4 separate regions of the Homo sapiens genome follow, and regions 1, 3 and 4 are each linked to region 2. The links come from fine-mapping of genetic effects on gene expression. A gene starts in region 2. Each other region holds a variant in brackets. All regions are shown on one strand. Distances are between the middles of the regions. Region 1 overlaps DAPP1 (dual adaptor of phosphotyrosine and 3-phosphoinositides 1). Region 2 holds the start of DAPP1 (dual adaptor of phosphotyrosine and 3-phosphoinositides 1). Region 3 has its middle 120 kb from the start of H2AZ1-DT. Region 4 overlaps DAPP1 (dual adaptor of phosphotyrosine and 3-phosphoinositides 1).

What was found. PIP is the estimated chance that this variant, and not a neighbour inherited with it, causes the effect.
Region 1: its variant is fine-mapped to the expression of DAPP1 in whole blood (TOPMed, PIP 0.94).
Region 3: its variant is fine-mapped to the expression of DAPP1 in lung (GTEx, PIP 0.93).
Region 4: its variant is fine-mapped to the expression of DAPP1 in whole blood (TOPMed, PIP above 0.99).

Annotation. Positions count from the first base shown.
Region 1 is chr4:99,852,764-99,860,873 of GRCh38, reverse strand. DAPP1 (dual adaptor of phosphotyrosine and 3-phosphoinositides 1) reads right to left here. Exons shown (of 9, transcript NM_014395.3): 4 at 7,526-7,656. Among named protein-coding and RNA genes, the nearest start is that of LAMTOR3, 38 kb to the left of the region's middle. The variant C/T (reference allele first, on the strand shown) is at 4,554.
Region 2 is chr4:99,812,425-99,820,534 of GRCh38, reverse strand. DAPP1 (dual adaptor of phosphotyrosine and 3-phosphoinositides 1) reads right to left here and starts at 3,708. Exons shown (of 9, transcript NM_014395.3): 1 at 3,521-3,708. The coding sequence starts at 3,621.
Region 3 is chr4:100,063,436-100,071,545 of GRCh38, reverse strand. No RefSeq gene overlaps it. Among named protein-coding and RNA genes, the nearest start is that of H2AZ1-DT, 120 kb to the right of the region's middle. The variant T/C (reference allele first, on the strand shown) is at 3,088.
Region 4 is chr4:99,833,947-99,842,056 of GRCh38, reverse strand. DAPP1 (dual adaptor of phosphotyrosine and 3-phosphoinositides 1) reads right to left here. Exons shown (of 9, transcript NM_014395.3): 2 at 6,312-6,434; 3 at 1,635-1,768. Among named protein-coding and RNA genes, the nearest start is that of DAPP1, 21 kb to the right of the region's middle. The variant A/T (reference allele first, on the strand shown) is at 4,213.

The DNA.
Region 1 (8,110 bases), 40 kb before region 2:
TGAACAGAAATTTGCATAAGACAAGTAGCTTAACATCAAGAAATTTATCATTTCATAAATTCCACAAGAAATTCAATTCGTGGTAGAATATTTTGTTCAAATGTGATGTCATCATATGTCTTAGTAAGAAACAAAATTAACAAAAATTGGGAAGTGATTTGGTTGACACCAAGGTTCTTTCTATGGTAATTTCCAGAATATTTTTTTCCAAGGTGAATTTTCCCAACCAAATAAAAAGAGGAACAACCATCTCTACCACAATAAAAAGAGTTAAAGCAGGAAATAAGCAAACACTTCTTTTAAAATCTTATGATATAAAAGTAAGGATAAACTAACCAAATGTTCACTTAAATAATATTAATCAATATTGGTGAATTTGATATCTCATAATTGGTGTGATTTATTTTAACATTAAATAAATTGAATTGACTCAGTTGAATTCAGGTGTTATAGGAATGGCAAAAAGTAATTATTTTGGGCTGTTGCAGGTTAAAATCTGTAGAGGCAAAATAACTAGGAGTAAATTGTTGTATAAAAGATCCTGATAGAATTATTTACTAAAATCAAGCTAGGGAATAATCCCATCTTACCTCCACCCAAACAATGTACTATAAGTGTAGTATTCTTCTAAGGTTTTGATAGGTAAGCCAAAGGCTGCATGGGAAAGCAATGAGACTATTAATTTTATTCAGGGTCTCCAGATGTAAGAAAGTAAATAATTATAGAGCACATTTATCTTTAAAAATCTATGAACTGTAACAGAAAAGCTGTTTATAAGAGCCCCCATTGGGGTACCATCTAAATGTTCAAAAACAAAGGACTGTCCTTCCTGCCATCCTACTACCTACTTGCCTGCCAGCCTTAAATGAAGTCAGTAGCCAACACAGTTCAGGTGAAGCAAGGCAGGCATTGATGTGTGTGTGGAGGGCTTTCAAGCACCTTAGTACAGGGTGGTGGAGCCCAAGTAGGGCACAGGGAGCCTCTGTGTGGACACTGGCAGTGACAGTGGCAGCAGCAGCTGTGTGCGAGGCATTGAAGCCTGGCAGGGTGTGGAGGGCTTCTGCCTGAAGGGGTGGAGGTGGCAGCTACTGCACAGTTTCAGAGCCAAGTTGGGCTAGGTGGACATCTGTAGTGAGGGTGGGAGCAGCAGTGGCCTGGAACTGAGCATTGAAGCATGACTGGGTGGTTGGAGTGTCGGGGTAAGGGTTGAGTAGTAGAAACAGCAATGGGAGATTGCTTATATTCAATTGATCACCACATAAGTGTACTGAGGATGATAAGATCCATATTTTCTCACTGTGGGAGAAGGGAAAACACTAGAATGAACTTTGTGGTATTGGAAGCATTGTTGTGAACTCATGGATCGATGAATGAATCGACAGATAAATACAGATGTAAAAGTATATATGTGTACATATGTATATACATACATATTTTCCCAGCTCTGCTCACTGAGTGGGCTGGGAGAGTGACATCCTGATAACAATAAGCACATAGTACCTAGATGTCGATTTCTAGAGTACTATTCTGTGGAAAAAGAGCAGAGTTTCTTGGAGAAATAGCTGGTTCTAGAGCTGGGTACAAAGAAAGAACAAGATAAGTCTGGATCATCTTGCTATTCAGAAAGTAAGAAAGTTCTTAAAAGAATTTTGAGGCCAGGCCAGGCACGGAGGCTCACAACTATAATCCCAGCACTTTGGGAGGCTGAAGCATGAGCATTGCTTGCACCCAGGAGTTCGATACCAGCCTGGTTAAAATGGTGAAACCTTGACTCTACAAAAAAAAATAAAAAAATGAAAATACAAATATTAGCCAGGAGTGGTGGTACACACCTGTAGTCCCTGCTACTCAGGAGGCTGAGGAGGGAGAGTCACCTGAACCCAGGAGGTCGAGGCTTCATGAGCCGTGATCACACCACTGCACTCCAGCTTGGGAGACAGAGTGACGGAGTGACACACTGTCTCCAAAAAAAAAAAATTTTTTTTGAGGTCATATGAACACAGACACCACTTGAAAGGGCTCTTTCCCCGACTGGCCAAATCAGGGAAATTTTGAAGGATCAAAATAAATAATGATAGTCATGATTATAACCATTTGATATAAAAATGATTGAAAATTTTGAAGAATAAAAAGCTTTTCCTTACAGTAGAATGACAACCAATGAATGTAAAAAGGAATAAGAAAATCAGAGAGTCATCGTTTGGTAACAATCATAGTAATGATTAAAACAGCCAAGACACATCAGTAAATGCTAAAATTGGCAAGTAAAAATTTAATAAGTAACAGAATATTCTTATAGTCTCAAATAACCTCACCCCAAACATTTTTTAATAACAAAGGGAATATGGTGACTTTAGAGTGAAGAAACCTGGCAGACACCACTTAAGTAATCAAACACACCATTATGAGACAGATTGCAATTGTGTTCCATCTGAGAAGACACAGTGAGAAGCACAAACAAAGCATCACTTTTGTGGTATTTGTAGCCAACATGAAAAAACCTGTATCTAATCATGATTCAATATCATATAAACCAAAGTTGGGAAACTATTTACAAAATAACTGGTCTTTAATTTCAGATGTGTCAAAGTCACGAAATTAAGGAAAAACTGAGGAAGTGTTCCAAAGTGAAGAATCTTCCAGAGACAGGACAGATAAGTGCAACTTGTGCTTGAGGACTGGATCTTTTACTCTGACGGAACTTACTGAGAAAACTAGTGAAGCTTGAATGAGATCTGTGGATGAAACAGTGGCACAGCCTCAATGTTAATTTTCTAGTTTGGAAGGCTCTATCTGGTCACGCAGGCAAATGCCCTTATTTTTGGAAATACACACTGAAATATTCAGGGTGATGGGGCATCATGTAGGCAATTTACTATCAAACGACTTGGGGAAAACCAAGTTCTGTGTACTATTCTAGCAATTATTCTGTAACTTTGACATTATTTCAAATAAAAAAGCATGTTAAAACATAATAGTGGATTAACTGAATAAATTGATATACTCAAATAATGGAATATTATGGAATTTGTTTAATGGTGTTCCAGAAAACTAAGTAATTACATGAAAAAAATTTTAAATATATAGTTAATTAAACAAGAATATTACAACTCTACAATGAAGAGCTCATTATTTTATGTGTGTGTGTGTGTGTGTGTGTGTGTGTGTGTGTATATACATACATATACTTTTTTTTTTCAAGTAAAAGACTGAAAGGATAAGCAACAAAATGTTAAACCTGAGAAGAGTTTCAAAAACAAAATACTGGAAAAGGGCAACGTGCAAGGAAAGTATCCAAGAAGAGGAACTATAAAATGTGTCAAAGATTACGGAATAAAGACAGAAAGATGTTGCCAAAGCTAAGGAAACAGAATTTTTAGAAGGAGGGAGTTGTTAAAAACGTCAAATACCACAAAAGGGAAGCTAAGGAAACTAACATTTTAGATAGGACCTATTATGTCAGGAACTTGAACTATATTAATCTCAATCTCTACCAAGACAACTAATTGGTATTTCTCATTTAACATGTCCAAAATAGAGCTCTTCTTTCTCATCCCCTCAACCCACCCCTCCTGCAGAGTTAGCCTTCTCAGTAAATAGCAGGGCTTCTCTGCCATGACTCTGCTACTCTTTCTTTCGTGTATCACATTCAATCCATCTGCAAGAATTTTTTTAAACAAGCTCAGAAGGTAAAGAATTCTCATGTTATGTACAAAAGGTACTACTGAGATTTTGGGCAAGATAATTCTCTACCACTCTTTGAAGAATAGTTAGCCCCTGATCACTGTTGGGAAATAATCTCCACGGGTCTCTTGTCAAGGTTCCAAATGTCTTATGAGCAAGGCATTAACAGTTCTTTGCTGCAGACTGATATTTAAAGTATGCTTATACAAGCAGCCTTGGAATAAAGAAATATTTCCCTTCAGAACAAAAGACATGTCTACTGATCATTAGAAAAGATTTGGGTTCCCAAGGCTCAGGGTTCCTCTCCTGTAGGGCAACCCATTGTGGATATCACCTGGCCCTTTCAATATTGCCCTTTGGGAACTTCGGCTCAGCACAGGGAATTAGCATAAATACTGATATCCTGGCTGTTGCTCTTCCTGTGAATAGCAAACTATTTTTCAACGCTTACCCAGAAGTCTTGTGTCATCCATCAGCATACATGAAACTGCAGCAGGCTAACTTGTTAGCTTGCAAGCAGAGTAAAGTCAGACTCTTCATGGCTCTTGACACTCACGCATGATAGTAGTGCCGCAAAGCAATGCACCAACAGAAACACTCATATTTCTAAATGCTCAGCTGGGAGGTGCTGCTCTTTGAAAACTCCATTGCCTTATGTGATCTGACCCCTCATTACCTCAATAATCTCACCTTCTACAACTTTTCCTCTAGCTCACTTCATCCCGTAATTCTGACCTTCCTAGCCTTTGAAGCACCTCAATTTTGTTTCCACTCCAGGGCCTTTGTACTGTTTCCTCTGCCTGCAGCACTCTTTCCACATCTTGACATGAGTCACTCCTTCCCTTCAGTGAAATCTCTTACTAATGGTT[C/T]CTCCTCACAGAGGCCTCCCTTGCTTCCCTCTTCTCCCCTTATCCTACTTTTTCTTTTCATGATGTATTACTGTCTGGTATCAGATTACTGCATTGATTATTGTCTGTGATCTTCACTAGAATGTGAGCTCAGTGAGGGGAGGAGGACCTTTGTCAAAATTACTGCCAAACTCCCAGTGCTTAAAACAGTTCTGAGTGTATTGGAAGCACTTTAAAAAAAAAAAGTTTGTTTAATAAATGAATTAATTAAATTTAATCCTATCATGGGAACTCAATGCTATGTTGTTTATAAGACATAAATAGCAATTTCCCCAAATGCAGTTACTAAAAGATGTTAAACAGTTATACACAGTCATCTGCATTTCTGGGCAGTGGGGCATCTTTCACTTTCGCTTCAAACAAGAAGTTCTTTTAATTCTCTTCCTCCACTGCTAGACCTTGAGCAAGAACTACACCCCAAAAAGAAAATGCAGAAGTTTGAAAACCCTCAGGGCTCTCAGGCTGGAGATGGAGGTGCAGCATCATGTAGCCATTTGGGGTAGCAAATGAAGGCTTAGAACTTGTGTTCAATAAGGGACAAGAGCATTCTGATCAGACCAGAACTCTTTCCCCAGCAGCTATACTGGTCCAGTCACCAATGATTCCCCAATGAGAAGTAATGAGAAACATTTCAGATCCTCTAGGAAACCTTTACATTTTTTTTGTCCATAGTGATGTACAATCAACTTCATAAGCTTGTCATTATATAGTGTGAGTTCAAGTCATTGTCAACCAATCACTCACCACTATTTTAAAAACTCCATTTTAAAAGAGGTGAATCCATCTGATAGCTGGAGTGAGAAAAGAAGGTAAGTAACAAGGTTTCCAGAATGTGCTTTAAAGAGGTTTATTTCTGCATAAGGATACTATATCTTCTGCTCACACCAATCTCACAAATTAGGTATTATCTGCATTTTATTGCCGATAAAGAACACGCTTAATAGGACATGGTTTGTTTGACCTTGAGTGGAGATCTTTAGGGGAAGTGTAGCAGAGGAGAATGTGAAGTTAAACTAACAGGGCAAATGAAAGAGATGTTGAAGTGACTGGTGATCTATATTAAGGGTAAGGGTGGGTAAAGAGGAAATTATGAAGGGACTGGACAACTGGAAAACAAGAATTGGTTGCAGAGTAGATCTTGATTTGTTCTTTGGTCTTTTCTGCCTTTGGACTATTTATTGTCTTGCACTCCTAAATTTCTCAAGTTCTGAGTTCTTGATGCCTTCTCCCCCACTTCTAACAAAGCCAAAATAACTTTCTCAGTCAATTTTCAGGATTTTTATTTCTGAGGAGATGTAGCACTGCAATGAATATGTAAGATGTGCCATGAGCCAGGCTAGGCTGTAAAGCTGCAAGGACAAGCAATGATTCATGTACTTAGATGTTTCTGGCTGGTGGGGAGGGCAGAGAGATGTGAAGGTAATTAGCCCACAGCATGGTAATTTTAGAATAAAGGCAAACAGAGGGTGCTCTGGAGCACAGAAGAGGAGCATTGTAAAAGAAGCTAGTGGGGGTGAAGAAAGGCTTCCTGGAAGATAATGATCCGTGATACCAGTCTTGAGGGATGAGTAGATAGCAATGGTGTTGGCAGCATTTCAGATGTAGGGAGAGGAGAAAGAGCACAATGTTGAGAGAGACAGGTTTCACAGTGTGAGTGTGGGAGTAGCATGAGATGAAGACAGAGAGGCAAGCAGGGTCCAGGTGGGCCATGAACACAAAAGGCATCACCAAAGGATGTAAAGCAGAGGTCATGTGGCAAGCCTTCTTTTTAAGAAAGATCTCTCTGGTCAAGGGTAGAGAAAAGTACTGCAGATATAGAAAGTTACACTTATTTTAATATAATTTGTAGCTGAATATCTTCAAGTGATTATTTTTCAAGTGTCATGATTACTATCCAGAATTAGTTCTTGATATTTATTTGGGTATTATCTTCTTTATCATCTGCCCAAATAGAGGTTTCTTATACCAGGAGTATTCAGCAAACAAGGAAGAGACAACAAATAGAAGGGCCTTCAGAATAATGAAGGGAAAAGGGTGTTGGAGAGGAACCTCTGCAGAGTCACAGTTCACAGAACAAACATAAATGGACTCTTGGACAAACAATGAGTGCTCCAATTGCACTGAAATTGAACAATGGCTCACGTTGCAAAGAAGCACAAGTGTTTTCTGTCTGTAAACTTCAGTCAGTAAAGGAAAAAAAGCTAGAAAAAATAATACCCTGAGTTTTTATAGTAAAGGTGGAGAATATTTGTCTTCCATAGATAGTTGAAATATTTAAAAAAATATATTTTCTTAATATAAGAAAATTGTAGGAGAAAACAGTTTAGAAAACTATGTGAATGCAAACTTCTCTTTTCCATTCTACTTTGAAGTTGTTTGGTTAACTAAGGACAGAGATTTAAGTTCCATTTTCGAAGTATTTAAAATCCTATTACTATTGCATTGCTTTCATTTGTTCGTTTTGAGACAAGGTCTCACTCTGTAACCCAGACTGGAGTGCAGTGGCACAATCACAGCTCACTGCAGCCTCAACCTCCTTGACTCAAGTAATCCTTCCACCTTAGCCTCCTGAGTAGCTGGGACTACAGGTGCATGCCACCATGCCCAGCTAATATTTTTTAAAGTTTGTTGTAGAGATGTTTATGTTGCCCAGGCTGGTCTCCAACTCCTGGGCTCAAGCAATTCTCTTACCTTGGCCTCCCAAAATGTTGGGATTACAGGCATGAACCACCATGTCTGGCTGCATTGTAATTTTTATGATCTACCCAGGACCAGATGAACTGAGTCATAGGCTTCAAATCTCACATTCCTTTCCAAGTTTTATATTCCAAGCTAGAATTTTTATGTGAACAAATACACTCTTATTAACTTTTATTGAACTTGATTGATTTTAGACAGGGAGAGAGCTTGTGGTCACGTTGAAGGTCACTTACAGAAGGTGCTGTGGGCACAAGGTCATCTTCTGTTCTTCCTGTCTGCATTGCTGTGTGAACCCGGACAGATTCATAAATGGAGGGTTCTTCCACTTTTCTTGGGTAGGGATGTTTTAGAACCATCAGAGTGCCTGAATGAAGATGAAAAATATATAATCGAACAGTGTTCCCAGAAGGAAGGTCCAAATGCTAACTGGATAACTGTGGCTGGATTGGAAAGTCTTTTGTTTTTTTCATGTATTCCCTCGCTCATTATCTCAACAGTTATCAAATACCAATTAGGTATAAGGCACTTAAGCTGGACACTGAGATATAAAGCATGATGGAGATGTTCCTTGGCCTCCTGGTGCTCAGAACTGGTAACAGATATGGTCGTTTAAATGAACAGGGTGATGAGACCAATGGCAGCCGTGTGAGCAAAGCATGATAATCATCCCCAGACTGCTTGAAGAACCTTTCCATGAAAGGATTCAGGACAGCTTTCATAAAGGAGGTGACATTTGATTTAGATCTTAAGTAGTAACTGGAAGTTTTCCAGGAAGGCTTTATGAAAGCCATGAGAACAAGACTAAACAAAAGCACTAG
Region 2 (8,110 bases):
TTCGATTTGAGAAAGTATTTAAAAAAGAGAACGTTTATTATGTTTCTCACTTGGAGTTACAACTGACTAGATCATTTGAATATTTAATTTTAAAGTATGCTAAAACACTTTCATTTTGTTATTTCTTTTGTGTTTATACATATATATAGCTATATGTAGAAATAGTATAGTAACCTTTGTTAAAGCCAAAGAATTGCTGGAATTTTCAGTAATTTAACTAGCTATTCTTTACCAGTTTGTTACTTAGGTGATATCTCCAGTATTTGTTACTTGTTTTATTTTGCCATATTTTCATTTTGCAAGCAGCAAACAGCCTGACCCATCTCCTCGTTCATGGTCCACCTCCTTCCTCTCCCCTGATTCTCCACACCCTCACTTCTTGCCCTCCCCACACCTCTCTTCCCCCTAAGCCCATACCCTCCCCTGAGAAGTGTAAGCGAAGCTGAGCAACAATTTAAGATGGTTTTATTTCTCCTTTGCTTCTGGACACATTAATGTATTTTAGATGAAAGAAAATTAATGATTTTAGGCTGACACTCTATAAATGAGACATGGAAAAGCACTGTGTTGCTTGATTTAGGTATTTTAGAAAATAATAAACCTGTACTCTGAGCAAGTTGTATATGTCCTGGAAAGGCAAGTGATGGATTTGCTGCAGTTCAGGGCTCAATTTACAGGATTTACATATTCCAGAGCCTGAAAAAAACAGAGGCCCAAGAACAAAGACTTCTGCTATTTCTGTAATTTAACCACTAACTTATCTGTTTATGTCTATCAAAAACATAAACGTAAGGATTTATCTAACTACTCAAATAACCTCTTAAAAATAATTGAAAAATTAAGTCATTAAAACCAGCTACCTTTTATCTATCCATTACATTAAATCATTTTGTTTTTAAGGAGGTCTTTGGAAACTAAATTAATCAGAAGGTTTGGTAGAGATTCTATCTCGCCAGTGGTTAAAGGTTCAAAGAAAAAGTCATTATAATGTTCGAGTTATGTTCAGTATTCTGGCAGAGGCAACAAGTCATTGTCAAGAGTTCTCAAATTGTTATCTATAAAAAATGTATCAGTGAGGTGCTGCAGGAGCAAGTACTGGCACAAGTTGATTATTAAATATTCAATTCGATGATGTTAAATTGTTGGCAGCTTGAAATTGTCTATAGTGGGAGTATTTATACCAGGGAATTAGGCAAATTCTTGAAATCAGGGCTTTCTCCACACCCCAACTCTTCCCAGCTGTTTTTCCAGCACACTGTTGAGTATGCTTAAATAAGCCATACATCTGAGGGTTCTTTTTGGGAGAACAGAAATGTCCTAAAACTGATTTATGGTGATGGTTGTATCACTCTGTAAAGTTAGTCAAAAGTATTGAATTGTACACTTGAAACGGGTATATTTTATGATATGTAAAATAACCTCAATAAAGTTGCTAATCGAAATGCCCCTAAACCAACAAACAAAATATCAACATTTATTAGTAATTTTAAGATTCAAGTACACACCCAACAGACTTAAAATGAAAAACAAGACCACATTTACCTAATGCATTTGGTAGATACATATTCTATGCAGTGATCATCAACCTAGGGTCTCACTTTGGAATTACTTGGAGAGTTTGACAAGAAAACACCCATCCCCAGAGATACTGAAATCATTTGTCAAGTCTGTGGTTTGGGTGTCAAGATGTTCCAGAGCACAGCCAAGGTCAAGAACCAGGACTGTAGAGCAGTTTTCCCAGATAACTGCAGGTTGCCCATTGCTATAGAAATCATCCTCATGTTTATTAATTGTTCACGCCTTCTGAAATAGGGAAATCTGGCCATGAATGTACCCTTTTTTTTTTGCAGGGAAGTGGTGTGACTCAGTTTTGTATTCAATGTCTATTCTTTGCACATGGAGGAAAGACACAGTCCTATTCCACCCGTGGGTTTCACCTGTAGTTGCTTCTTGCTGTTGACATCATGGTGGGGCACAGAGACAGCATCTAATTCATCTTTGTCATCTAAGTGTGTTCCCACAGTACTCAACCATAGACTCTGGGTTCTAGGATTGTTTGTTTAACTAAAGGACCAGAATTGAATATATTCCTCTATCTCCTCCTTTGGGGTTTTCTATTACAGTGGGCTGGGAATACAGTTAACAGAACATGTAAAGCATTGTAACTTAATAGTTCAATAAGACACTGAGGGCCACAGTTCAGCTTTAGCTTTTGGACTTGGTGACACCTGTGCTGGATGCTCACAGAAGGGCCTTTTACCTCTTCTGTTTGGGGATTCAATCTAGAGGGATAGAGAGATTCTAGAGCTCTGGCTTCCTAATAAGGGGAGTTTTCTTTAATGAAAATTCCAGGTGTTTTATCTGATTTGCCAAATGAAAGTAGAGTTCAATTCCGAGACCTCAGTTTTATAATCTAAAGACAGGAATTATTAATAAACTTTTACAGTAATACAACATAAAAAGATACAATCTCTGCAGCCTTAACACAGAGAGATTTCAACTCTATTTTGGTTTTTCTTTGGTTTCGGACATAGCCTGTGGTAGGTTGGATGCCCAGCTTTGCTATGTAATTGATGTGTGACTAGCAAGCAAGTTATTCAAACCTGTTTGGTACTTGTTTTCATCCTTTGTAAGATGAAGATGACAACAGCTCCTATGTCATTGGATTGCTATGAAGAGTTAGAGCTATTTGTCCAGGCAGAAGGTAAAGGTTTTGCCTCTCCTCATGCACAGGTGTCAAAGCCACCTTCATTGGGATATTCCCAGTGCATTAGGCAGTTTCTCTGGGAAATCCCCAATTCCTCTCTTGTGTAATACTTGTTTCTTATTAAATACCCGGATGAGTTGTCATCTGGGTCCCTTCTTAAAGACAGAGCTCCAATGACTCCACCTACCTATGCTTACCTGTTTGAAGCAGAAATTTTATCCTCTTCCTGGATTGTTGGTACTGAAAGGCTCAAAGTTGGCTCTCTGGACATACATACGATATCAAATCTCACAAATGCAGTATCAGGAGAAAGAAATATACAAGCGAGACTGTTGCAGGAACTTCCTCATTCTCTGTCTTTTGAAAAAGTCCCTCTCCCTTACAGTAGGGTAAGCTTTCTGTTTATCTTACCAGAAACACAGTCCTTTTACTGTCCCTGGGTCAGTGCTAGAAACTCTTGAACAGCGCATTTATTCATAAACCAGAGCAACATCAAGGAAGCCAGGCAACATCACCTCTATATCCCAATTCTGTCCCTCTTCTCAAAGAATGTCCAACATTTGATTTTTTTCCCTATTTTCTCAACCAACTTGTTTTCACATCTAGAAAAATAATGCCTGCTTTTCCAATGGAATTAGCCCCAGACAAGAAGATACTTAACAGATACAAATGAATAAAGTGGAAAAAAATAAATGGTTGAGGTGGCAGAGGGCAACAAGGCACTGAAGATAGTCATTAATCAAAGCATGCAGGTGGGAGTGCGGAGTCAATGTCCACCCACTAGGTACTTTGAAAGGAGATCTGCTGCCTTACCCCAAGTCCTGGAGCAGCTCAGCCTCTCCATCGGATCTGCTCCACAGATCTGAGGGATCCTGGGTGCTCATCTTCCCTTCTAGAAGTTCTGCTCTGCCCATTCGCGCCCTTCACAGAGGTAGAGAGAGAGACACAACTGGGCTGCTCCTGACACCTTCTCGCTCTGTGAGACAGCAGCCTGCTATGGCTCTGAGTCTCCAAGGCAAGGAAGTGAAACTTGGTTACTTACTCCTCCCACCAACACCACCACCCTGGCCTGGAGGCACTGGCAGGAGTGTTCTGTCAGTCAGGAAGTATGCAAACTTAGGTAGCTACCTCTGAGGACACCCACACTACATCACGCAACAGGCGGTTGCTATCAAAGGAAATGAAGAGGCAACCACCCCACCTGGGATTGGACAACAGTGCAAACTGCTTGTGTGAGGCCAAACCCTAGCTTCTCCCTAATGCTATCAGCCTCTGGTTTGTAGTGGAGGATGCGTGCACTCTTTTACCCCATCTTCTTTCTGTCTTACACACCAACACAGGGAACACTGAGGAAGCTTCTCTATCAGGAACACCTTTAGAGTGGATAGAAAAAGCAGAAGCAAACCACAAATTCGACCCTGAAGTTTGATGTTTTAGCACTTTTGCAATATTTCTGCTTGTTTACCCAGACCTTCTAATATATCCTCAATGCTCCGAATAGGGATGATTCAGAGACAATTATTGTTTCCTCCACAGAAAAAGAATTAGGAGAGGAGAAGGTAGGAAAAAGTTACAAGGGGCCATTCTGGTGCCCACCTAATGGGGCATATTAGAACTCCTGGAGTCTTTTTTTTTTTTTTTTTTTGAGACAGTCTCGCTCTGTCACTCAGTCTGGAGTGTAATGGCATGACCTGAGATCACTGCAACCTCCACCTCCCAGGGTTCAAGTGATTCTTCTGCCTCAGCCTCCCAAGTAGCTGGTATTACAGGCACCCGTCATCATGCTCTGCTAATTTTTGTGTTTTTATAGAGACAGGGTTTCACCCTCAGGTGATACACTCACCTCGGCCTCCCAAAGTGCTGGGCTTATAGGCATGAGCCACTGCACCTGGCCTGAACTCCTAGAGTCTTTGAGTGCCACTTCCTTCATGGGCTTACTCACACCTGCATGGCTTTGTGCCCAGATTCATATGTAGAGCAGGATTCTATCTGCCTGGAATGCTAAAGGTAAATTGCAGTGACTGAATCCTTGGGAAGTGGAACAAAGTGCAGTATCAAATGAGTCAAGGACATATGTTGCTTCCTGCCTTTTCTATGTACCTACAGGTCTCTCTCTCCCTCTCCCTTTCTCTCTCTCTCTTCCTATCTCTACTCCCTGACTCATTCAGCACTCACCACAGTGCTCTGTAACTTGTTCTCACAGTGTGGCCTGAGGACTAAACAGCACAGCAGAACTGTTCCTAAAGGACTAGATGATTGCAAAAGGCTGCTGTGCAATGGTTCTATCCTTCATCTTCCTCCCTATTACCACTGTTCACCCGGGATCGGTGAGACCCGGGTAACACTGGTTGCCAGTGGGAAGTTCCTGAGTGTCTGGAGGCAGTCTGCTGAAGACTAAGCTCTGATAATACATATATAACTGACTAAATGAGCACTTAAATTCTTTTGGCTACAGTTTGCTCACAGAGAAGGACAGGGCCCACTTGAACAGAGAGGCCAGTGCAGGCCAGGGAGATACTGAATATGCATACAGCAGTGACAGGGGAACAGCCTGGGCACTAGAGTTCCTGTTCCCTCTCTAGAGCCCTTTATTTGGTGTTTTAGTATCTATTTCATTCCCATTTTTAGCAAATTCTGGTTGTTCTTTTTCTTAACTTTTTTGGAAGTACAAGTAGCAGAATTTTCTAAGATCGTCCTGCTTTTCTGGCTGAATCTTCCTGCCTTTTGCCCTTCCTCATGTTGCTGTCCTGTCTGTTGCCCTCTCCTTTGATGTCATTGTCCCACTTTGTCATTTACTCAATTTTTCACAGTATCCCTACCACCCCGCCCACTCCACTAACTACACACTTAGTTTTGCAGTGGTAACAGCTGCAGGAGGCTTGCTAGATAGTTTCAACAAAATGCTGGAGCCCATCCCTCCCGGGACATCTATTGCTGTGTAACTGAAAGGGGATTTAGAATCTTGTTCTGGGCCGGGCGTGGTGGCTCATGCCTATAACCCCAGCACTTTGGGAGGCCGAGGCGGGTGGATCACCAGGTCAGGAGATCGAGACCATCCTGGCTAATACAGTGAAACCCTGTCTCTACTAAAAATTCAAAAAATTAGCCGGGCATGGTGGTGGACGCCTGTAATCCCAGCCACTCAGGAAGCTGAGACAGGAGAATGGCGTGAACCCGGAAGGCAGAGCTTGCAGTGAGCTGAGATCATGCCACTACATTCCAGCCTGGGCAGCAGAGTGAGACTTCGTCTCAAAAAAAACAAAAAACAAAAAACAAAAAACCTTGTTTTGGAACCAAGGCCAGCATCATGTCTGTTCTTATCCTTCAGTGCCTGTGGCATGCTAGTTGTATATTTAACAGGTATATTGAGGTACAATTTGTATATCATAATGTTCATTTTCCTTAGGTGTACAATAATTTTGAGTAAATTTGCAGAGTCGTGCAACCATCATTGCAATACAATTTTAGAATGGTTTTTATCACCCCAGAAGATCCTTTGTATCTGTAACAGTCTAAATACCACTTCTGTTTTTAGCTCTACCTGAAATTATATAGAATATTTGCTTACTTGTGGCAAATTCTCTTGATGGATAGATAGTAGATAGATGATAGATAAATAGATAGATAGATAGATAGATAGATAGATACATACATACATACATACATACATACACACATACATCTCCCAACCCACATGCTCTTCTGCAATGTGACCTTGCTGCTCCCTGTCAAGAGGCAGCACCTAACTCCCCTCCTTTGAATCTGGCCTGGCCTCTGTGATTCACTTGTGACCAATAAAATGTGGTGGAAGTGACACTGGATCACTTCTGAGGCTAGGTCAGAAGAAGCCTTGCAGTTTCTATTGTGGTCTCTTGGAAGGCTCACTCTCCAAATGTTACTTTCAGGGGTTCCCCTTAGGAACATAATTGTTATGCCTAGAAGCCCAAGCCACGTGGAATGCTTCATGTGTGTGCTCCAGTCAACAGTCCCAGATAATCCCAGCTTGAATCATTCTAGTCCAGGTGCCAGACTTGATTGAAGAAGCCCCCAGATGATTCCAGCCTCCAGCCATTCAAATCACTCTCTCCTAGTGGTTTGCATATTGCCAGCTGAGGCCCCAGACATCAAAGAGGAGAGACAAACCATGCCCTGTTTGAATTTTGGATCTAAAGAATACATGCACTTAATAAGATGTTTGCTATTTGATGCCATGAAGCTTGGGATGGTTTGTTAGGCAGTGATATGGTTTGGCTCCTTGTCCCCACCCAAATCTCATCTTGTAGCTCCCATAATTCCCACATGTTGTGGGAAGGACCCAGTGTGAAATAACTGAATCATGGGGTGGGTCTTTCCCCTGCTGTTCTCATGATAGTGAATAGGTCTCATGAGATCTGATGGTTTTAAAAATGGGAGTTTCCCTGAACAAGCGCTCTCTTTGCCTGCTGCCATCCACATAAGATGACTTGCTCCTCCATGCCTTCTGCCATGATTGTGAGGCCTCCCCAGCCATATGGAACTGTAATTCCAATAAACCTCTTTCTTTTGTAAATTGCCCAGTCTTGGGTATGTCTTTATCAGCAGCATGAAAATGGACTAATACAGCCAGCGATAGATAACTGAAACACTTGCCTATCATCTGGGTCAATGCCTAGAATGTGAGCTCCCAGAGGCAGGGACTTCCAGGGTCTTGATCACCTTATATCTTTGATGGTTACTTTTACGTGTCAACTCGGCCAGACCACGGGTTGCCCAGATAGTTGGTCAGATGTTATTCGGGGTGTTTCTATAAGAGTGTTTTTGAGTGAATTAACATTTAAATGGTAGGCTCTGAGTAAAGCAGATTGCTCTCTATAACGTGGGTGGACCTCATCCAACCAGTTGAAAATTTGAACAGAACCAAAAGACCAGCCTCCCCCGAGCAACATAATTTTCCAGTAGACTGCATTTGGTCTTCATTTGCAGCATCAACTCTTCCTGGTACTATAGTAGACAGCCTTTGGACTTGAACTAGTTCTCCAGCCTGTGAGCCCACCCTGCAGATCTTGGACTTACCAGCCTACATAATTATGTGAGGAAATTCCTTATTTTATACAACGCACACACACACACACACACACACACACACACACACACACACACCCTCTCTCTCTCTCACACACACACACTCTCACACTCCACATATATACATACTATTGGTTTTGTTTCTCTGGAGAACCTTCACTGATATAGTATCCATAGCCCCTAAAATGGTGGTTCTCAATTGGGTCCTCATTTTTGAGGTGGTTTTCATTGTTAGTTGTCACAACCTGGGGAGCCTACTGGCATTTAGTGTGCAGTGATGCTGAATATCCTAGTGTGCAGTACAGCCCCCACAATAAAGAATTACCTGGCTAAAAGTATCAA
Region 3 (8,110 bases), 250 kb before region 2:
CCAAAAAGGGTGATAGAGTCTTCAAATGGCAGCCATAAACTTATGAGCAGGAAGAACATATCTCTTGGGAACAAATCAGCAGTTTGTAAAGATTTCCATTGTTCCCCAATTCCAATCAAAATTACCACCAATTTTTTTAGGGAACTTGACAATTTGATTCTAAAATTTATGTTGAAAAGCGTATGGTTTTTCTACATGAGAAGTACCAAGACAATGCTAAAGAGGAACAAGATGGAGACATTTTCCTTTGCAGATATCAAAACCAATGTAACAGATTACAGGCCAGAAACAAACCCATGCATATACAAAAACTCTATTATAAATATGTATTACGTATCTGTGGGAAACTAAGGACTATGTTAGTCCATTTTGTGCTGCTATAGAATACCACCGACTGGGTAATTTATAAGAAACAAATGTATTGGCTCACAGTTTTGGAGACTGGAAAATCCAGGTGTTGGCATCTTGCCAGGGCTTCCTTGCTGCATCATCCATGGCAGAAGGTGGGAGAGTAAGAGAGAGTAAGAGAGAAAGAGGGAGCCTAACTTGCCATTTTATAAGCGAACCAATCCCACCAATGAGGGTGGAGCTCTTCTTGTCTAATACCTCTTCAAAGTCTTACTTCTCAATACTCTTACGATAGCAATTAAATTTCAACATGAGTTTTGGAGGGGGCAAACATTCAAACCATAACAAGGACTAAAGACTTCAATGTAAAAGGCAAAACCAGAACAATTTTAGAAGGCAATACCAGGCATATCTTTATGACCTGGAGGAAAACAAGGATGCTTTATGTAAGACCCAAAGTTACCATAAGGGGAGGAAATAGCCACATTTAATTATACTAAATTTGGGCTTTCTGTTCATCAAAAGACAGAATAAAGAACACGACAAGACAAACCAGCGTGAAAATGAACAGAGATAGGTAAGTAGATGAATGGAAGAGAACAGCAAGACAGAAAGGTCTTATACTGGTCATGAACCATAAACTGCAAGAGAATATTTGCAATACAAATAACCAACAAAAAGTCATTATCTAAAATGTATGAAGAACTATTAAAAAGGGCAAAAGATGACATTTCAGGGAAGAGAAAATACTTATGGTGAATACACACAAAAAAAGATGTCTAGTCTCATTAGTAATTAGGGAAACAAATTGAAACCAAAATCAAATGGTATTTATACTGCCCTGATTTTGCAAATATTAAAATATATGCTGTCAAGTATCTTCATATGAGGATGTTTAGCAACAGAAACACTTTTAGTCTGCTAGTGGGAGTGTATCAGCACAAGCCCCTTTGAAAACAGTTTGACAATATATAATAAAGTATATATAGCATACCCTACTCCTCAGCAATTTCTCTCCTATATGTATGTATTAAAGACAGCCTTGCACAAGTGCATGAAAAGACATACAATACTCAGAAGAAACATTACTCATAAAAGCAATACTTGGGGGAAAAAACAAATATCTAATTCTATATAGATAAATTATATATTTATATTTTGGAATATCATATACAGTAATTAAAAGTGAATGAAACAACAGGAAGGATTCCCCAAATTTTATGTTAACAATAATTTAAAAAGATACAAGCAAGTGATAGAAAAAAATATGCTGCATATTTCTTATTATGATAAAATAAAGCCAAAACTAAACAATATACTGCCTAAGGATTTATTTATAGATGGCAGTGCTGGTTTATTCTATTGACAACCTGACTAAGCTAGGAACTATATATCCCAGAGTTTTCTACCCTGTGCAGATTAAAGTAAAACTTGGTCAAAAGAGGAACTTGAACAAGATATTGGAAGCAGAGTGAAGCAGCATCCAATTTTCTCAAAAGATCTGTGCCATCAAATGTGGTGACAGACATGCAGAAGTGCCAGGAGGTTGCAGCTTATACTTCCTCTGCTCAACTCAGCTCCCAGCCCTTCTTCCTCACTGGGGGCCTGCTGACCAACAGTAGACCTACAGAGGGGGCAGCTACAGTGGCAATCACTTCCCGTAGGATTCTTTTCCATCTCCCTCTTTGTGGCCCCACTCCCGTTGCTAGATGCACTTGGATTCTTAGCTCCTCCTTGAAATTCCGACTTACCCATCAACATGGTGCTTCAGGAGGGCTGGTTAGTGGTTTTTACTCCATTTTTCGCACTTCCCCTTTCAGATCTTCACTGAAAGGTATAGGAGGTATAAGGTGTAAGTCCTATAATAACCCCTATCTTAAATCTTTTATAGTGAGTCTTCTTTCCCGATGAAATTCTGAGTGATGTAATGACAAAGCTACAAAGGAACAACTTAGCGTCTGGTGGGGAGGAAAATGAACAGAATTAAGGCAGGGCACACAGGGGATTTCAGAGCCACTGGAGTGTTCTTTTCCTTAAGATGGGTATGGGTATGGATATGCAAGCATTCATTTTATAATATTATTTAAATTGTACAAAATATAATATATACTCTTTATGTTGTGAAGTTTCCAACTAAAAGTTAAAAACAAACAAAACCATAGCGAGATGTGTTAAGCCAGAGAGTTCAAATCTTCAAGAAAAGTCCAAAAGCCTTAAATGAAAAGGAGAGAAAGAATTGCCCCTGGTCAAAGAGAAAGGCATTGTTAGCTCCCTGAGACTTGGTCTCTGTGCAGCCAGAGGCAGAAAGAAGCAGTCAGATCCAGATTGCTGGGTGTTGAGGCAGCAGACTGCTGGCTTCCCAGTGTTTGGAGTGTGGGTGGAGTGGTGACCAGTGAAAGGTAGGGGATTGAAGGGAACTTTTCTAAGAGGACAGCAATGTGCTAAAAGCAGGAGGGTGCAATTGATTCTACCCAGGATGGCCGGTGCTGTCAGGAAAAGGCAATGTGATCCCAATTGGATGACCATAGCTGGAAATGATGTTTTCAACTACAATACCGTCCTCTAGAGAAACTGAAAGACACAGCAGAGGGTGAGTTTTTCCAAAGGGCCTCTTAGAGGAAACATGGAGAGCTGGTGGAAGCTGGGATTGACCGTGAGCTAGATTGATGGGTGGACCTCAAGTAGGGGGAGCTGGGGAAGCAATTGTGATGGTAACACTAGCAGCCACCATTTACGGGA[T/C]ACTTACTTATCTCCCTGACTTCTAAACATTGGATTTCCTCTTTTCCAACTAAATTCCTCTGATGATCCCATTGTCAGAGGATGCAAACTGTGGGGTTTGTCTTATTATTATGCTGCCAGCGCCCCTTCAATGGTCCCTGATATGGTTGTGTCTGTGTCCCTACCCAAATCTCATAACTTTCAATACTAGCTACAGGCTACTAATTTCTGTTTTAGCCAGACCTTTCCCCTGAACTCCAGACTTCCATATCCAACTGGCTTCTTGATACGTTAGCTTAGGTGAAGGTGATTAACTGGCATCTGGTATGTCCAAATCTGAGGTTGATGTCCTTAACCACATTAACCATCCCCCTACCCTAGCCCCAAACTCACTTCTCTCACCAGCCTGCCCACCTCAGTAAATGACAGTAAATGACAATTACATACTGACTATAGTTTAGACAAAGAAGTTGGTGTCTTTCTTGACTGCTCTCCTTCTCTCACATCCTACATGTGATGCCTCAGCAAATCCCGTTATTCTGCTTCAGTGAGACTTGTCTTCCTTCTGTTTTCTTAATCCACCAGATCTTGCTGCCTCAGGATTTTTGCACCCATTGTTCCTTCAGCCTGGTATTCTGTGTCCTGAGAAAACTGACTAGCTGGCTCACTCATCCCATTTAGTCTTTACTCAAATATCTTAATGAGGCCCCTTTAACTAGCGTAGTTAAAATTATAGACCAGCCCTCCAACATTTTCCAGTCCTTTTTTTTGCCTTATTTTTCCTCTTAGCCCTTATCATCATTTAATATAATATAAATGTTCTTAGTTAACTTATTTTCTGCTATTATACATACACACACACACACACACTCACACACATACATACACACACCCAAATGTACGCTCCAAAAAAGTGGAGATTTTTGTCTGTTTGGTTCATTTTAGTGGTCTCAGAAGTAGAACAGTGCCTGGCACATAAGAGGCCCTCAGTGGGCTGGGCGCGGTGGCTCACGCCTGTAATCTCAACACTTTGGGAGGCCGAGGCGGGCTGATCACCTAAGGTCAGGCGTTCGAGACCAGCCTGGCCAACAGGGTGAAACCCCTTCTCCACTAAAAATACAAAAATTAGCCGCGTGCCATGGTGTGCGCCTGTAATCCCAGCTACTTGAGAGGCTGAGGCAGGAGAATCACTTGAACCCAGAACGCAGAGGTTGCAGTGAGCAGAGATTGCACCACTGCACTCCAGCCTGGGCGACAGAGCAAGACACTGTCTCAAAAAAAAAAAAAAAAAAAAAAAGCTCTCAGTGAATACTTGCTGAATAAATGGGTGAGTGAGTGAGTGAGTGCAATCTGTCAGGCACTGTAAGTGCTTTACATGAAATCTCACAATTTCCATTTAATTATTCCCATTTTACAGATAAGGAAACTGAGGTTTTTAGCTATTTTTATTGGATTTGCCCAAGATCACGTGGTGGTGAGTGGCAGATCTGGGCAGTGAACTCCAGCAGCTTGATTCCAGAAACCTCACTCTTAAATGTAATGCTAGCCTTTCCCAGGATGAAAGTCCGTCACATGGTCCTACAAAGAAGCTGGAAGTCAAGTACCAGAGAAACCAAATGTAAATCCCAAAAGCAGGAACAGAATGATAAACAAGAGATGGAGCCAATTCTCTAGAATTAGATGCAACTGGGTAACAAGGGTGCATGGGAGGGGTAGGAGTGGAGCTGTGACCAGGAACAGACACTCTCAGTTGACCAGCCCACCCTTAGAGGCCAGGGTAGATATACCTCTGTGTGTGTCAGTAAAACAGCTAAAATGAACCGGATTCCAAAATTATGAGAGATGGGAAGTGGATGCAGACTGTGGGTTTTGTCTCATTATTGTGCTGCCAGTGCCCCTTCAATGGTCCCTGATATGGTTGGTTCTGTGTCCCTACCCAAATCTCATCTTGTAGCTCCCATAATTCCCGCATCTGTGGGAAGGACCTGGTGGTAGATGATTGAACCCTGGGGGCGGGTATTTCCCATGCTGTTCTTGTGATAGTGAATGGGTCTCACGAGATCTGCTGGTTTTAAAAAAGGGAGTTTCTCTGCACAAGCTCTCTCTTTGCTTGCCGCCATCCAAGTAAGATGGGACTTGCTCCTCCTTGCCTTCCACCATCTTCGTGAGGCTTCCCCAGCCACGTGGAAATTGTGAGTTCTCCATTAAACCTCTTTCCTTTGTAAATTGCCCAGTCTCCAATATGTGTTTATCAGCAGCATGAAAACGGACTAATACAATCCCTTATTAAGCTGGTGGCCAGGGGAGAATCTGATACAGAAAAACGATTCTGTTGACATACAAGTGATCAAAACCAGATGTGGAATGAGATATAAGGGATTAAGATTATATTTCTTCTTTTGATTTGTTTTAAAATAGCTTTAATTTAGGATATAAAATTTCAAAAGCAATTAATATTTATTACACATACATTTCTTCTGCTGCTTCAAACTATGTGACTTTGGGTGAATTGATTCATTTCTCCATGCTTGCATCACTCTTCTCCTCTATGGAGGAAGTATGAAGTATTTTATGATTGGAGACGATAATAGTAAAAATCTTATAGGGTTGTGAATATTAAATGAGACAGACACATAAAGCACTTAGAACAGTGCCTGGCATATAGTAAACATGCAATAAATATTTATCATTACAGATATAAAATATAAGGCTATTTTGTTTATTATTACATATGGACAGACCCTCCGAGCACCATGAAATAAGTTGAATCATGAATGAGAAAAAAAAGTTTGATGAAGATCAATTTATGGGACAGTAGTTAAAGCAGCATAATAAAAATGCAGAATAAGATATGTAGCTAAAATTTCAATAGGGAACCTTTATTCTGAAAGAATGTCAAAGGTCCTTTGGAAAATCAGAACCAGCAAACAAGGTCATGTTGTGTCCAGCATGCATTAGAGAAAGAGACTGAACATAATCCTAGAATGATGAAATATCATTTGGACATACTAAACCCCATCCAATCCTGCACAACAGTGTCTGTTACCAGTATAAGAGTGTCATGTTAACAGCCAAGTGGCAGGAAATTAAACACTTGAATTTTCCACAAAACCAAAAGCAGAAAATAAATGTACATTAAAATAAATTCTGTGGTTAGTTTACTTTAGCATGATGTTTTGACCAAAAATTGTCTAGAGGGGTCCCCTATTATGGTTATCAGTGAATGATTTAGGTATAGGACTCCTGGCACTTTGGGAGGCCGAGGCGGAAGAATCATTTGAGCCCAGGAGTTTGAGACCAACCTGGGCAACATAGTGAAACCTGTCTCTACCAAATATAAAAAACTTAGCCAGACATGATGATGCATGCCTGTAGTCCCAGCTACTTGGAAAGCTGAGATGGGAAGATTGCTTGGGCCCGGGAGGTCTAGGCTGCAGTGAGCCATGATCGCACCACTGCACTCCAGCCTGGCTGACAGAGTGAGACCTTGTCAAAAAAATAAAAAACAGAAATAAAGAAAGAGAGAAAAAGAAAGAGAGGGAGGGAGAGAGAGAGAGAGAGAGACAGAGACAGAGAGAAGGGAAGGAGGGAGGCAAGGAGAGAGGCAAGGAGGGAGGGAAGGAGGGAGGGAAGGAGTGAAGGAAAGAAAGAAAGAAAATGGGACTCTCTCTTTGGTCTAGGGAAACATTTTTTGCTTCCAAGTTGATTATCAGTCCAAGTGCTGTCAAAGACTGGAGATGTACTTTTTTCAGTAGAAAAACAGTACAACTTTACTACTAGTACCTGGCCCAGGATAAATGAAGGACATCTCATGATCCCTAGGTTTTCTTTCCAAACAAATAAGAGAAAGTTATATTGAATGAGGTATAAGAAAAATTAAAGAAAATGCAACTTCTGGAAGATTCCTTGAGCTGTAAGGAAATGATTTAGAAGGAAGAAAAAACTGAAGTACATACACTGGGCATCCAACCTAACACTTTATTCACTCACTCATTGGGTCCACCAGCCCTCCAGTCCACAGCTGAGTAAACTTAAACAAGGCATCTTGTCACTGTAAGACTCGGGGCTTTTTTTTTTTTAATTTGTAAAATAAGAATAATAATGGCCTCTACTCATAGGATAGTTTGAAATATGAAATAATGCATGTAAAGTGTTTAGAACATGGCATGGCATATAAATTAGGACTCCAAAGGATTAGCCATTAGCATTGTTGTTATTATTTTTCAGACTTATTATTTTCCACTATAATAGAATCTAGGTCCTAATGGTTTAGGGTAGACAGCATGAACAAAACTTACCCTTGTGAAACCTGCCTGCTGTCAGCCTCCTAGTCACAGAGGCTACGTCAAACTCCAAACAAGGACACTATTGCCCGCTATCTCCCCGAGCCCCATGTGGACCCTGCTTATCCAGAGATGCTGACCTGAGATGGTCAAAACCAGGCGACACATGAGCACATTCTGTCATAAGCACCCTGCCTGATCTTGCTTGTGCCTTTTATCTCGCCAATAAGAATGCTGGAACTTAGTAGAAGTCTAGAAGATCAGAAGAGAGGACATCCAAGAAAGGAAATCCAAATCTGGGTTCCAGCGGAAAGTATCTGTAAGTATTCCAAATACAGAGAGACAACCAAGGAAGTCTCACTGAAGCTATGATAAACTGTTACTGCCCAAGCATCCACTGAAAACCCACTGAGGAAAGAAATAAGGAGATAATTGAGGAGAGTCCTTTAGAAAAATGTTTTGTGAAATCTCACAATTATAAACTGTATGCTACTGCATTGTGGAACATGCCAGTAAAGCAAAATGCTGCTAAATATGTGTGTATTATGGTGTGCCTGTGTTAACTGAGGACTGATAAAATCTGAAACCGTGATCCATGATAAAAATAAAAAACGTGGTTTTGCAAATGGATTTTTATCTAGAAAATAAATTTGCCACAGGATGGCAGTAAAAGGTAAGTGATAAGGATAGGACATGTATTTTTATTAACCCTTAAAAGTGCTTTAAGGTATACAGAAACTTCAAGTATTTGAACATAACCT
Region 4 (8,110 bases), 22 kb before region 2:
CTGCCTTCACTTTGATCTTAAATGTTTTGAAATCTGCCAGTAGGCAGAATATGTATCTTTTCCCTAACTTGGAGAAGGCCCAGGAAGGAGCACAGGGAATGATCAAAGAAGTTGAAAATAGAGTCTAGGAGAAGAATTTAAAAGAAGGGAGCTGTCTTTGGTTGGAAGAAAAAGAGAAAGTAGAAAAATGACAACTCTAGTGGCTTTGAAGACTACAAAGAGTTCTTACTCATAGTTATCCATGTATTCATTTATTTATTCACCCAAAATGCCCTGCAGTGGGCCAGGACCTGGCGGATATGAAATACAAAAATTAGAGGTACACAAAACAAAACCCTGGCTTTAAAAATCTCCTCTACATGGCCAGTGACCAATAACTGAACAAAATCAAGTGTGGAATTGGATGCAAGCAGGAAAGGAGACTGAAGTGTAGGGATTTGAGAAACTGAAATGCTTGCCAAGGCCAAGGTAGCAGTGGAAATAAATACACCTCCACTGGCCATTTGTTCATGGGAACAACTGCTTGTTAAATGGTGAAGTAATTTTCAGGGTTGATTGGGAGAATTTATACCAGGAGAAAGAAGGAAAAAAAGGTTATAACTTCATTTCGTAGTTTGGGTTATTCTTTCTTGGGCTTGGTGTGGTCAGTATAAAGCAGAGCAACTATTTTCTAGTTTCCGCTGTGCACTTCATGTATACTAGACACTGTGTGAGTCACATCAGGGACTACCCACACCACATAAATAGCAGAAAAGACAGAAGCCAATGATGCCATCTCTTCCCATCACACTGAAGTTAACAGAAAGCCCACTGGCAAGTTTGCCAAGAAAACACGTATGTACAAACTCATGGTAACTGGTTGTGTTATTAAGTCTTGAGTTCCTCTTGTGCCGCAGGTTCTTGGAATTTCCTAGTCTTTGATTAACTAAGATTTATCATTATTTAGGACAAAAGTGTTGTGATTCTATATCACAAATACAGGGATGATATTTTACTTCATTAAAATAATATAAATAAACAAGATGTTCAATCTTAGATAATTCAAGTGCCAAGATAGACTGTTTTTTGTGTTTTTTTTCTTTACACATGAATTTTTTTCTGGTTTAATTCTCTAACCATTCAAACAGGAAAATTCAAACTTTTCCAGCCATAGTTAAGTCTAGCTTAAAATCTTATTTAAAAAACCGTGACAATAGAAACAGAATTTTATAACTTAGGAGAGTGCTTCCTAGTTAATATTTTCAATATTCAGTGATCTCTGTGAACATTTAAGTGGGAATTTTAGTTTTTAAAATGCTCAAAATTTACTTCTGTGGGTCTCACTCATATGCAAACTGCCTATATCTGAAATTATGAGTAATCAAAAAGTCATTTTTACCTTTGTTCTTTTTGTGTGTATTGTATATGTTATTTTAAAATGGTGAGCCCATTTTAAAGAAATTGTGTGCTTTTAATCAATCCATTAAGTAACACATTCTGAGAAAATATCTACTTTATACAAAATACATTGTTTTCTCTTCAAGATAATGCTGAAATATAAATGACAACAATGACATTCTTAAATTGAAATCTGCCTTGTCTCTCCTCCATCCCGAAACATTATTTCATAAGTCAAGTGTCTGCTCATAGCTTACCTGTCTCGCTTCCAATCAAAGGCTGATTTGCAAAATGCTTGACAAAATCCTTCAAAGATGAGAATTCATTAAAGCCAAATTTAAATGAATATCCAGTATATTCAACATGAAAGTGTTTAACAGAATCTTTGGCCCTAAAAGGGAAAAAGAAGTATTTAATATTATTTAACAAATAAATATCTTGTTGAAGGGAAATATGATCTCAGATGTTAGCATCACTATTAACCCTTTATAAGAACTGAGAATTAGGCAATCATTGAAACCACTGACAGTTTTAAATAGCATCACTAGTTTCTTTTGGCAGAGTTTGCTCTTTTCAACTTTTATTAATTAATTAATTCATTTATTTATTTACTATTTTGAGACAGAGTCTTGCTCTGTCCCCCAGGCTGGAGTGCAGTGGCATGATCTAGGCTCACTGCAACCTCCGCCTCCTGGATTCAAGTGATTCTCTGGCCTCAGCCTCCTGAGTATCTGGGATTATAGGTGTCTGCCACGATGCCTGGCTAATTTTTGTATATTTAGTAAAGACTGGGTTTTGCCATGTTGGCCAGGCTTGTCTTGAACTCCTGACCTCAGGTGATCCTCCTGCCTCGGCTTCCCAAAGTGTTGAGATTACAGGCGTTAGCCACCACGCCCAGCCTCAACTTTTCACTCTAATGGAAGACAAGAGACTGTTCTCCCTATCTACTCCTAGACTTACCAAAAGAGTCCTTGAACATTATGCTGCTAAGGGGCATGAGTTTAAGAAGGGCAGAGAATAGGAATGATAGAAATGACATATGACACCCTCACCACACTCTCCTCTGCCTTGGGCTTTTCTCCCTTGCTTGTTTGGGAGTCAATCAGAATTCAGCTCTGTCGCTTGATTAGTTACGTGAGCCTAGCCCTTTTCCTCCCGTGCATGTTCCACTGCCTACTGAATAAAATATCAAATTTCCTACATTGTCATTTTCCACTTCATTTTTGAAATGAGGCAGAGTATTAAACAATATATATATATCTATATATATATCTATAGATATCTAATCTATATATATCTATAGATATCTATATATATCTATATATATATATCTGCCTCTCCACTTTATTTGATCCCATTCTATCTTTCTAGCCTCACTTCCTGCTATTACTCTCAGTGCAGCCCATGCTACCATGTTAGCATGCTTCAGAATCATCTGATGGGCTTGTGAGAACCCAGCTTGCTGCCACCTCCACCTCCACCCCTGCAGATTGAGATTCGGTAGATCCAAGGTGGGGCCTGAGACTGTGCATTCCTAGCATGTTCTTAGGTGACACACCTGGTCTGGGGACCACACCTTTAGAACAGCTGCCCTAGTCCAACTGGATCTACTGCTCTTCAAGGAGTTTCCACTTCTGTCCCTTAGTTCATACTGTTCCTTTTTCCTGAAACGGTCTTTCTCTTTGTCTCTGCTGGTAGAAATCCCAGCCACTCATTAAGGTGCAGTTCAAGTACCACCTCCTCTGTCAAGTATTACATGATAATTCCAGCTTAAGTTAACTGCTTTTTCCCTTCTGAACCACCTAAACACTTATCTTGCTTTCTTTTATGTTATTTGTCAACCTCTACTTTGTAGTATGTTACTTGTATGTGGTCTTTTTGGCTCTGTGAGGCTGTAATTCCCCAAAATAAGGTATTTCAATCTTCTACAGCAGGGATCCCCTATCCTGGGGCTGCAGACTGGGTACCTGTTAGGAACCAGGCCGCACAGCAGGAGGTGAGCAGTGGGTGAGCAAGCATTACTGCCTGAGCTCTGCCTCCTGTCAGATCAGTGATGGCATTAGAGTCTCAGGAGCCTGAACCCTATTGGGAACTGCACATGTGAAGGATCTAGGTGGCACACTCCTCATGAGAATCTAATACCTGATGATCTGAGGTGGAACAGTTTCATCCTGAACCCGCATTTTCCACAAAACCAGCCCCTGGTGCCAAAAAGGTTGGGGACCACTGTTCTACAACACGTACCAAAGTGGCTGGTGCAGAATAAATGCTTTCAAATATTCATCATTAAAAGAATGAACAAATAAGTGAATATTTGTTCATAAAACAAAAATAGTCATTCTCCTGAATTAGTCTGTGGTTTTTGTCACCTCTGCTGGTCATTTTTTTAATAAGCATTCTCTAGTGCTTGCAATGAAAATCAATAATTTATTCTTTATTTTTTATGTATATGAAATATGTATGTCATTGATTTATAAAAAGCTTATGATCTAATTGCTCAGATGAGACATACATAGGTGAAAAGTTAATTAACTTTTCATTTTTGGAAGATTCATGCCAGGGGTCCCCATCCATCCCCCTGCCAGCCACGTAGCAAGAAAACGAGTGATGGGTGAGCTAGCGAAGCTCATTTTTATTTATAGTTGCTCCCCATTGTTTGCATTCTCAATGAGCTCCACCTCCTATCAGATCAGTAGAGGCAATAGATTCTCATAGGAGTGCAAACCCTATTGTGAACTGCACATGCAAGGGATCTAGGCTGTGTGCCTCTGATGTTAATCTAATGCCTGACGAACTGTCACTGTCTCCCATCACCCCCAGATGGGACCATCTAGT[A/T]GCAGGAAAACAAGTTCAGGGCTCCCACTGATTCTGAATGATGGTGAGTTGTATAATTATTTCATTATACATTACAGTGTAATAATAACAAAAATAAAACACACAATAAATGTAATGCACTTGAATCATCCCAAAACCATCTGCCGCTGCTCCGGTCTGTGGCAAAATTGTCCCTGGTGCCAAAAAGGTTGAGGACCTCTGATGTGTGCAATAAAGCATCTACAACTTAACCATTAGATGAACTTTTAACATTTGCTGTTGAGCAGAGAAAGCACAATTCTTGTTGCCACTCAAACAGAATTCCATCTTGGATTAATAATTTTTTCATCTATGTTATTCAGAAAATTTATAAATAAAATATAACAGGGTGACATGAGAAATGTTAATGAATATGCTTGTTTTTCCTCTGTGACCCCTACTTACCCCATCACCCTCTACCTGTTTCGCACACCCACCCACTTCAAGTAGGCCTGTAGATTTTCACTGTTCCAGGAATGGGAGTTGTGGCAGGCAGCATTCTAAGATGATCCCAAATCCCAGCCCCTGGAGTACACACACTTTATCCCAATTATTCAATCAAAAACTAGTCTACATGCTACTGGGAAGGGATTTAGCAGGTCATAAAGTCCCAAGTCAGTTGATGTTAAGATATGGACATTATCTGAGTGGGCCTGAACTAATCACATGAGCCCTGTAAAACAGAGTTTTCTCTGGCTGCTCACAGAAGAAAAAGTCAGGGAGATGTGTTCTGGCTGGCATGCAAGAAAGCAAACACCCATGTGGTAAACAGCCATGGGTGCCATGTGGCAAAGAACTGTGGGTGGCGTCTAGGAGTTGAGAATGGCCCCTGGCTGACAGCTAAAAGGAAAAGGAGGACCTCAGTTCTACGGCAGCAAGGGAATGGATGAAAAAGGATGAAGAGGAAAGGAGAAAATGAAGGAAGAAGACACTAAATACCAGATCAGAGCCACAAGCTTCTCCAACACCTTTATTTCAGCCTGGTAGGATCCTGGACAGAGAATCCAGCCAGAAACTGTGAGATAATCCAGTTGCGTTGCTTTAAGTCCCTAAGTTTTTGATAATTTGTTATGTAGCATAGAAAATGAATATAGAAGCAAGGCCCAGAGCCCAAAGAGACAATGTGAATGCTGCTACTGAGTTAGTGACCAGTAGTGACCGTGTAGACTGGGAAAGAAGTGAGAGAGCCTCTGAGGCCAGATTAGCTTGAGGAACTGCACTATGAAGGGAAGAGTGACTCTCCAGGGTATATGGAGGTGCCATCAGAACAGTAACACAATAACAGTTTGAGCTTAATGGGTGGGTGGCTGAGGGAAATTTCATGGAGTCCTTACATCCCCTGCCTAATCCATGGAGAAGCGCCTAAAAACCCAAGAATACTTGCTACATGTCAGTGGAAGCCAGAGTGTCAGATGCGACTGAGAACCAGCCGCCTCCCCTGACTACCAGAAGCTTGGTCAGCCTCTCTGATCTGGGGCACCAGACAGAAAGAAGGGGGTGTGAGGTGGGGAGGACCTGAAAGATCTGGACAATGACTGCATTTGGCTGTATGAACCTGGTGGGGACTGGATTAACTTTCTTACCATTTGGGAGAAATAGAGACTCAATATGAAAAGCTAGCCCACTATAGGAAAAATTTTAAACATGTATATTGCCTCCTTGAGGTTGTGACTATGAAAGCCGTACAGTCATAAATCATTCTGCATTTACAGAGAAATCAAAGAATAGTGAAAAGGACACTGAGCCAGGTGTCAGGAATTTGGATTCTGGCACTGTTTCTATTGTTGATTTTTGAGGTACCAGACATTCCACCGCTTTGGGTTTCAGATTCTTCAACAGTCCCATGAAAGGTTTCCATCAAATAATTCCTCATGTCTCCTCCAGCTCTAACAATTTTTTTCCTGCTAATGAATGGAGCAGGAATGTTGTTTTACACCCTCATCATTTAGAGTTTGGAATCCTTTAACCTGGTGGTCCAACAGGAATTGGGAAGTTTTGCTGTCTGGCAATTTGAGTGATGATAAAGTCAGTAAGTGACAGAGGAGCCCATGCTGAAGTCGTAGAGCCCTGAAGCACCTTACCTCACAGAGAGAGAGTACAGCCCGGTGGTCTCATTGCTGTCCCTCAGAAGGTAGCTGCCGTCACATCCATTTGAGAGGAGAAGAGCTTCAGCAGCATGGCGTGTGAGGTTGCCGTGATACCACCTAGAAAGGAGGGAACAGCGCTTTCACTCAGGCCAAACCATGGCATGACTCCCCCTGCACTGGCTTTTCCTTGCAAAGATTACCTAGCAACATTCTTCAAGATAAGTAGCCCAGAGACCCAGCTCTCAGCCCCAACATTAGGACAAGGAAATCCCTGGGTGGGGCTGAAAGGAGAGCACAGAGTTGACTAATAGTAGCGTGACATGGGTTGAATTGTGTCCTGAAAGTTCTTATGTTGAAGTGCTAACCTCTCAGTACCTCAAAATGTGACCTTGTTTGGAGACAGGGTCTTTACCAAGTTAAAATGAGGTCATGGCTGGGTGTGGTGACTCACACCTGTAATCCCAGCACTTTGGGAGGCCAAGGCAGGCGGATCACTTGAGGTCAGGGGTTCGAGACCGGCCCGGCCAACATGGTGACACCCCGTCTCCATTAAAAACACAAAAATTAGCCTGGCATGGTGGCAGGCACCTATAATCCCAGCTACTCGGGAGGCTGAGGCAGGAGAATCACTTGAACCTGGGGGACGGAGGTTGCAGTGAGCCAAGATCATGCCATTGCACTCCAGCCTGGGTAACAGAGTGCAATTCCATCTCAAAAAAAAAAAAAATGAGGTCATTAGGGTGGGCCCTAATTCAATATGACTGGTGTCCTCTTGTAAAAAGGGAAAATCAGGAGATAGATTTGCCTACAGGGAGAACAGCGCATGAACATGACAGTCACTTCCAAGCCACAGGAAGAGGCCTGGAACAGATTCTCCCTCACGGCCCTCGGAAGGAACCAATCCTGTTGACACCTTGATTTCCGACTTTGAGCCTTCAGAACTGTGAGGCAATCGATTTCTTATAGTCAGCTGCCCAGGCTGTGGTTCTTTGTTATAGCAGCCCTAGCAAACTAATACAGTGTTGCTTTGTAATCAGAATTGGTTTTTAAAGTCCAAGTCAAAATACCATAAGAATAGGCTTTGACCAATTTCCTTCTTTTTTTGGTCTCTCACACTCTTTTTCAAGTGTGGTACCTTTTCACGGCGAAACCTCTGTGCTATAATACTAAAGGCTATTGTCATGAGTGAAACGAAGCTGGATGGAAGGAATTATAGTATGAAGTAAATGCCACCAAGTACTGTTTCAGCCTGACAAGTATCTGAAGAGCTAGGGAATGCTCAAGGAGATTCAAAATGATATTTGTGTTTTAGAAAAGGTAATATATATCTATGGTAAAAAAAAAAAAATTCAAATTGTCCAAAAGGAGACATAGCAAAACATGTTTTCTTCACCCTGGGCCCTCAGGCTCCCTGTTCCTTTCCTAGAGGACACCTTGGTAACCATTTTCCTGTGCTTCCTCTTAAGAGATAGTCTACACACTTAGAGGCATTGGATGTGTACCTCCACTCCTGATTCTACAAACATACGAGCATTATTTATTATTTTTATTTTCTAGGCATATTGCTCTGCACCATCTTTCTTTTCTCCAATAACAGGTCATTCACATTCTTTTAAACGATGTCATAGAGGCATGAAATGTGATGATTAGGATTGTGGCCCCGGGGGTTGCTTTGCCTGGGTCCCAATCCAGGTGGTACCTCTTACTAGCTGTATGGCCTTGGACATGTTACTTAACCAATCTGAGCTTTGGTTCCTCATGTTTAAAATAGTATGACTAATAGGCATACGGCA